Regions from separate parts of the Homo sapiens genome. Here all the other regions are linked to region 2. Evidence: fine-mapped expression QTL. A gene starts in region 2. Each other region holds a variant in brackets. All regions are shown on one strand. Distances are from middle to middle.

The links.
Region 1: its variant is fine-mapped to the expression of PHYKPL in whole blood (INTERVAL, PIP 0.98).
Region 3: its variant is fine-mapped to the expression of PHYKPL in whole blood (INTERVAL, PIP above 0.99).

What each region holds. Positions count from the first base shown.
Region 1 is chr5:178,189,486-178,192,240 of GRCh38, reverse strand. No RefSeq gene overlaps it. Among named protein-coding and RNA genes, the nearest start is that of GMCL2, 3.5 kb to the right of the region's middle. The variant C/T (reference allele first, on the strand shown) is at 1,695.
Region 2 is chr5:178,231,219-178,233,973 of GRCh38, reverse strand. It overlaps PHYKPL (5-phosphohydroxy-L-lysine phospho-lyase), which reads left to right and starts at 1,172. Exons shown (of 13, transcript NM_153373.4): 1 at 1,172-1,482; 2 at 2,451-2,569. The coding sequence starts at 1,424. RefSeq lists silencers at 938-1,347, 1,428-1,747 and an enhancer at 1,010-1,548.
Region 3 is chr5:178,194,330-178,197,084 of GRCh38, reverse strand. No RefSeq gene overlaps it. Among named protein-coding and RNA genes, the nearest start is that of GMCL2, 8.3 kb to the right of the region's middle. The variant G/TG (reference allele first, on the strand shown) is at 1,647.

The DNA of each region.
Region 1 (2,755 bases), 42 kb after region 2:
TGCTTACTGCTTGATTTTATATGATCCCTGAACAAAGAATGGTTTTTACATTTTTAAATCATTGAAAAAAAAATCAGGCTGAGTGCAGTGGCTCACACCTATAATCCCAGCACTTTGGGAGGCTGAGGCAGGCAGATCACTTGAGGTCAGGAGTTCAAGACCAGCCTGGCCTTGAACATGGTGAAACCCCATCTCTACTAAAAATACAAAAAAATTAGCCAGGTGTGGTGGCATGTGCCTGTAATCCCAGCTACTTGGGAGGCTGAGGCAGAGGATCGCTTGAACCCAGAAGGCAGAGGTCGCAGTGAGCTGAGATCACAGTCTGGATGACAGAGCAAGACTCTGTATCAAAAATAAATAAATAAATAAACAAATAAATAAATAAATAATGAAAATAATAATATTTCATGACACATAAAAATTGTATGAAACTCAACTTTCAGCATCCATAAATTAACTTTGACATTCTGTCAATAGCAATCCCCCCAAATTATGGAAGTTGGTTTCATTTCTTGGTATGTACTTACCGACTTCATACCCTCGATTTTGCCTGTTGGCCCAAAGCATAAAGTATTTATTCTAGCCAGGCGCAGTGGCTCATTCCTGTAATCCCAGCAGTTTGGGAGGCCAAGGCAGGTGGATCACTTGAGGTCAGGAGTTCGAGACCAACCTGGCCAACATGATGAAACCCCATCTCTACAAAAAATTCAAAAAATTAGCCAGGCATGGTGGCACATGCCTGTAATCTCAGCTACTTGGGAAGCTGAGGCACAAGAATTGTCTGACCCTGGGAGGTAGAAGCTGCAGTGAGCCGAGATAGCGTCATTACACTCCAGCCTGGGCAACGAGAGTGAAACTCTGTCTCAAAAATAAAATAAAATAAATTAAAAATAAATAAATAAAATAGAGATCATAAGACTGACAAAACAGACTTTTTTTTTTTAGACAGAGTTTCGCTCTTGTTGCCCAGGCTGGAGTGCAATGGCATGATCTTGGCTCACTGCAACCTCTGGCCCCCGGGTTCAAGTAATTCTTCTGCCTCAGCCTCCTGAGTAGCTGGGAATACAGGCGCCCACCACCACATCCAGCTAATTTTTTGTATTTTTAGTAGAGATGGGGTTTCACTATGTTGGCCAGGCTGCTCTCAAACTCTTGACCTCTTGACCTCAGGTGATCCACCCACCTCAGCCTCCCAAAGTGCTGGGATTACAGGTGTGAGACACCGTGCCTGGCTCAAAACAGAATTTTTGTAGCAATAAGATGCCAAATTTCTACCTGACTCTGGTACATCACGTAACAGATAGCAGACCCTGAAGGGCATCAAAATATTTTACCCCAAAATATATTTATTTGACAATATTTTGAAATGGCCCTGCAAAGCTGTCTCCCATGGGGGAAATTTGCATCTGTAGAGAATTTCCATTAATGTAGCCAGGACTTTGTCAGATTTAGGAGAGATTCAATGAGAGTCTGAGACTTTTGAAGGTCTGAAAAGAGACATTCACTATCTATTCTGAGGGCTGCTACCTGGAGGCTTCATCTACGTAACAAGAACCTCAGCTTCCACAACCCCTTTCTTAACCCAAGCATTTCTTCCCACTGACTTCAACGCTTTTTTTTTTTTTTTTGAGATGGAATCTCGCTCTGTCGCCCAGGCTGGAGTGCAATGCAACCTCCACCTCCCTGGGTTCAAG[C/T]GATTCTCCTGCTTCAGCCTCCAGAGTAGCTGAGACTACAGATGTGTGCTACCACACCCAGTTAATTTTTGTACTATTAGTAGAGACAGGGTTTCACCATATTGGCCAGGCTGGTCTCGAACTCCTGACCTCGTGATCTGCCCTCCTTGGCCTCCAAACTGCTGGGATTACAGGCGTGAGCCACCATGCCTTCAACTCTTTATTTTATTTTATCTTACTATTTTTTTTGGAGATGGAGTTTCACTCTTGTTGCCCAGGCTGGAGTGCAATGGTGCGACCTCGGCTAACTGCAACATCCACCTCCCAGGTTCAGGCAATTATCCTGCCTCAGGCTCCAGAGTAGCTGGGATTACAGATGCATGCCACCACTCCCAGTTAATTTTTCTATTTCTAGTAGAGATGGGGTTTCACCATATTGGCCAGGCTGGTATTGAACTCCTGACCTCAAGTGATCCATCTGCCTTGGCCTCCCAAAGTGCTGGGATTACAGGTGTGAGCTACTGCAACTGGCCTGTTTTATTTTATTTTTGAGACAGGGTCTCATTCTGTCCCCCGAGTTGGAATGCAGTGTCACAGTCATGGCTCACCATAGGCTCGACCTCCTGGGCTTAAGTAATCCTCCCACCTTAGCCTCCCAAGTAGCTGGGACTACAGGTGCACATCACGATGCCCAATTAATTTTTAAAATTTTTTTGTAGACACCGGGTCTCACTACGCTGCCCAGGCTTGTTGAAAACTCCTGGGATCAAGCCATCCTCCTCGGCCTCTCAAAGTGCTGGGATTACAGATGTCAGTCATTGTACCCAGCCACTTCAACTCTTTAGACAAAGCTTAACTTTTTCAACCAATTGCCAATCAGAAAACCTTTGAATCACCTATGACCTGTAACTCCCCTGGAGTTGTCCTGCCCTTATAGGCTGAAGCAATGTGTACTTTACATGTATTGATTGATGTATTTGCTTGTAACCTCTGTCTCCCTAAAATGTATAAAACCAAACTATAACCCAACCATCTGAGGCACACTTTCTCAGGACCTCTTGAGACTGTACCCCAGGTCATGG
Region 2 (2,755 bases):
ATGTAAAATATTCAATTCAGCTTTACAGTTAAAAATAAGAAATTCCATTCTTTTAGGGAAGATGAAAAAGTCCTGTTGCATGGATGGTGGTGATGGCTGCACGACGATGTGAATGTACTTTTGCCACTGAATTGTATCCTTAAAAATGGTTAAAATGGTAAAATTTTGTTATGTATATTTTACACAATAAAGAAAAAAGAAACTCCAAATGTTCTTTAATAAATGCCTTAAGCGGCCGGGTGCGGTGGCTCACCCGGCCTGTAATCCCAGCACTCTGGGAGGCCGAGGCAGGCAGATCATCTGAGGTCAAGAGTTCAATAAATGCCTTATGCATCTTACAACTGTATTGGGAAGAGAAGAAGAAATCAGCAATGAGGGAGTGAAGCAGAGGCCTGGGAATCATGATGTGGACAGAAAGAAGGGACAATCAGGAGCCTCCCCTGCACCTGCTGCAGTCCCAGGCCCGTGTTCCAGGGTTCTTCAAGGCAGAAAGCCCCAGTGCCTCACCCCAGGAGGGGGCTTTTCTCTCATATCCCAGCCCCTTGGGAGGCTTTTTCTTCTCACTCCCTGGGCTGGGAGTCAAGAAGACCTCAGTAGGAGTCCAGCCTCTGCAGCCTTGCTGCGTGTCTGACAACAAAACCCTTTCCCTTTCTGGGCTTCAGGGTCACCGACATGTACCACAAGGAGGATTCCCAACCTCTCTTCTTGCCCAAACGCTGCATGATTCTCTCAGCGACGATACAGCTCGTCCGGTTCACCCTGCCTAGATTCTAGCAGGAACTATGGTGCCCTGAAGGTCAAGCCCATGGTGATCTCCTTGGTCAGCCCCAGAAGGGACCCTGGGCTCTCCTTCTGCTCTTCCTGCTGCCCCTTCATGGGGCTGGGAAAACCTAGGACCTGCTTCTCCCACCCTGAGGCCCCTACTGTGTACCAGGCCCGGGTAAGGTACCAGTCACATACTCGCACTTAGGCCTCACAGTTCATCCCATTTTATGCACAAGGCGACTCAAAGACTGAGTCTGGCCCAGAGAAGGCCTGCAGGAGCTCCGAGCCCCGCCTGGGCGCCGGGAGCAGGGGCGGGGTCGTCCGGGACCCTTTCCCGGAAGGGAGGCCGCAGGGGCCTGCGGGGCGGGGCCTGCGGGGCGAGGCCCGGGGCGCGTCCCGGAACCAGAGACGGGGCAGCGCTCGAGTTCCTGCGCGGGACTGCCAAGGCACGACCACGGGCCGGAAGGCTGCCAGGCCCAGTGGGCAAGCGAAGAAATGAACCACCGCAACGCGGGCGCTTCGGGGCGGGGCCGAGTGCGAACCTGAGCCCCAAATCCCGACCCAGGCAGGGGCGGGGCCCGGAGCGGGGCCTTGGAGGCCCAGCCCGCGCGGCGACGTCTCCGCGTGGCGTCACGGCACCGACTGACGGCCACCCACCATGGCCGCAGACCAGCGCCCGAAGGCCGACACGCTGGCCCTGAGGCAACGGCTCATCAGGTACCCGGGCGGGGGGCGGGCGGCGGGGGGCGCGGGGCTGCGCGGAGAGGCACGCGCACGCACGACGCACGCACGCACGCACTACGCACGCGCCTCCGGCTAGGAAGCCGCTGCTACCCATCCCGTCCGGCCGCTGCCCCGGCCCCGCTGGAGCTTCTAGGGCCCGAGGCGGGCGGCGCCGTTGGGCAGTCCCGGCGGGTGGTCTCCGGGGCCGCCTCCCCGACAGCGCCGTCTCCAGGCCGCCCAGTTCAGGAGACGGCCCCGCCCTCACCGCTGTTCGGCTGTGTCAGCCTCGCTTGGCAGCCTTTACTCCGGAGAAGACCTTCACCCTGGCGCCTGAGAGGACCTCACCCAGGGTGGCCCGTCAGCAGCACCTGGGCCTGGCTCGAGAGTGACCTGGGAGGGGGCTGAAAGGGCAGACAAGGGAGAGTCGGGGGAGTCGGTTCACAGGCAGCACACTTGACCTGTGAGGGGGCCCTCGGTGGGACGGTGGGTGAGGTCGCCTCCCACTGGAGCTTAGGGCTGGCACCCAGCGAGGGGCAGCAGGGCCACGTGGCTGGCAAGGAGCTGTTTAGGGCTGAGAGCCAGGCACCTAATGTTGGTGCCCTGGCCCATCCCATCGAAGACACGCGGCCTTATGGAGTCCCCATGGGACGGGGCAGCCACCTTTTCTCAGGATCCGGGAGACTGACGCGGACACATGCAGAAATGAGCAAGGAGGCCACAGAGGCTGAAAATGCTTTCAGAAACAATCCGAAGTTTCAGCGACTTGTTACCCCATCTGCTTCCTGCTTTGCAACCACCTGTGGAGTGGAGAGACAAGGCAGGGAAGCAGCACCTTGCCCTTCCAGCTCTCATTTCCCCCCCGCCACCAGAAACTGGGAAGGGGTGGGCGGGGGTCTGCGATGAGTAGACTTCACCCTTTCGGTCTTCAGACATGGCTGTCCACTCCTTGCCTGTCCCCACAGCTCTTCCTGCAGACTCTTTTTTCCCGAGGATCCTGTTAAGATTGTCCGGGCCCAAGGGCAGTACATGTACGATGAACAGGGGGCAGAATACATCGATTGCATCAGCAATGTGGCGCACGGTCAGTATCACACCTCAGGCTGGCAGGGCAGGAGAGGAAGGCAGTGCTGTGAACCTGGTCCCAAGGTGACCTGAGATTGCCGAGAGGTGTGGAGAACCTGGGTGGAGTTGAGGCACTGTCAGTATGCAGAGGAGGCTCAGCCTTCGCAATATAGCTGTGGAATTCTGCAATCTGGAGCTGTGCTAA
Region 3 (2,755 bases), 37 kb after region 2:
ATTGACATTGACCAAGAGCATCTGAGATGTGGATCCCTAAGCAGACCTCCATGAAGTTCAGCTTCTTCATCTTTTTTTACATTTTTTCTGAGACAGGGTCTTGCTCTGAGTGCAGTGATGTGATCACGGCTCGCCTCGACCTCCTGGGCTCAAGTGATCCTCCCGTCTCAGCCTCCCACTTAGCTGGGACTACAGGCATGCACCACCACACCCAGCTTATTTATTTATTTAGCTAGGGACAGGGTCTCCCTGTGTTGCCCAGGCTAGTCTCAAACTCCTGGGCTCAAGCCATCTGCCTGCCTTAACTTCCCAAAGGGCTGGGATTACAGGCATGAGCCACAGCTCCCGACCTACTTCATCTTAAAAAAAAAGAGAATGGCACCTGTCTCTCCACCATCCTGCAGGGCTATGGGAGGACGGCTGCTAAGGGTTTAGAACAGCGCCCGCTGTGAGAGCTGCTGTGACTGCTAACAGCAACAGTGGAAGCATCCAAGGGAACATTCCTTTGCCTGCTGACACCCCCAGGCCCCCAGCCACCCCGCAACAATATATCTCAAAATACATCTCAAGTCAAATCCTTGAAACAGACAAGTAAGAGATCTGGAGAGAGAATCTGCTGGCGGCCTCCCTAAAATCACACATTCTTGCCACAGCCACCCCACGCCCTGCTGAGTCTCAGAGGCAGCCTCTGTCCATCAGAAACCAATCAGAAATGGCTAGAGCCCTATACTGGAATCAGTCCTTAATGAAGTATGTGATTCACATACAAAACCCTAATCCTCCCAGTTTCCTGGAGAGCTCACAAAGCTGCACACAGTGGGCACAGCTCACACAGGGGCCCGGCCTCATCTGCAACATTATCCCCTGTGTAGTCTTTGAAACTTCAGACTCCCTGACCTCTGGGGCTGGACTCTCACTTTTATGAAGCATTCTAGGCACCAGTCATTGGGACAGGGACAGATTTTAGGACTCACTACTGCAGATTAGGTGGGGAGAAAGCCTATTAAACCGGGAAATTTCTGTCTCCCTCTGAGAGGCAGCAGTGGCTCCTAAAAGAGGCTTTGTTTATGTTTATGTCTGCATTGCCACTAGGTCAGTGTGGACCTGCGGGCTCTTTCTTTGAGCCTCAGTTTCTTTTTTTCTTTCTTTTTTTTTTTTTTTTTTAGACAGGGTCTTACTCTCTGGCCCAGGCTGGATTGCAATGGTGTGATCTCGGCTCACTGCAACCTCCATCTCCCAAGTTCAAGCGATTCTCCTGCCTCAGCCTCCCTAGTAGCTGGGATTACATGCGCCCGCCACCATGCCCAGCTAATTCTTGTATTTTTAGTAGAGACGGGGTTTCGCCATGTTGGCCAGGCTGGTCTCAAACTCCTGACCTCACGTGATCCACCCACCCCAGCCTCCCAAAGTGCTGGAATTATAGGCATGAGCCACCGTGCCCAGATTGAGCCTCAGTTTCTTTTTTTTTTTTTTTTTTTTTGAGACAGACTCTCACTCTGTCGCCCAGGCTGGAGTGCAGTGGTGCAATCTCGGCTCACTGCAAGCTCCGCCTGCTGGGTTCACACCATTCCCCTGCCTCAGCCTCCGGAGTAGCTGGAACTACAGGCACCCGCCACCATGCCCAGCTAACTTTTTGTATTTTTTTT[G/TG]GTAGAGATGGGGTTTCACCGTGTTAGCCAGGATGGTCTCAATCTCCTGACCTCGTGATTCGCCCGCCTCGGCCTCCCAAAGTGCTGAGACTACAGGCGTGAGCCACCGTGCCCGGCCGAGCCTCAGTTTCTGATTCCACAACAATTCATCTATTCACTCATGTATTTACTCAATTGAATTGTTGACGCTGCAATTGCCAGCAACATGCCCTTGACCTCCAGGACAGACTGGGTCTGTGAACTCTAAACCCTCATGCATAACTGTCCCTTAAACATCTTTACTGAGGCTAAGCAGGGGTTCTCCAGCAGAGATGGAAAAGAAGGGGTGCAGGCAGAGAAGACGACACAGCTCAGGTTCCAAGCTTGAGAAAGCAGAGGCTGCTTGGAGAACTGCAAGTTGCTCCACACGATGAAGAGGAGCTGGGACAGCGCGGCTGGGCAAGGGCTTTGGGTGCCACGACAAAGGGTTCAGATTTATCCCGCAGGAAACTGGAAGTCAGTGAATACTGCTATGGCGGTGGTCCAGTGGAGGAAATGGGAAGGAGGGGATGAACAGAGACATCGAGGAGGGTGAGTTGGCAGAACGTTGTGTTTGTGTGTGGTGACAACCCCCAACTCCATACATGGAGCAGGATGGGCAATAAGGCTGGAACACTGGACCAGAGCCGCTTGGTGGAGGGCCTTGGACTCAGAGGCTTGCTTCTCTCAAGGAGAAACCCTTTCACCCCCTGCTTCCTTGCTATGCCTCCTGCTGGTGGCACCAATTGTCTTGACCATTTTCTTCTAGTATATTTGTCCCTAAAGGCTAGAGAAGGATCAAGAAATGATGCATTTCCAAGATCAAGTCCAGACCTTTTGGTAACAAAGGCTGGCAGAGGGGAAAGTGAGCAGAGCAGCGCTGGGCTTCCAGCCTCCCCGTGCCAGGTCCTTTCACCTCCTCCACCACACCAGCCTTTGGTCTAATCAGACCCAAGGGAAAGAGACAAGGGGCACTCCGAGGTTTTCATCTTCCTACCCAAGTGCTGAGTCTGAAAGACCACAGAGACATAGACACAGAAAGCCTGCCTTTCTCCTGCCAGCCAAGAAATAGGAAGCCACAGACAGGACCA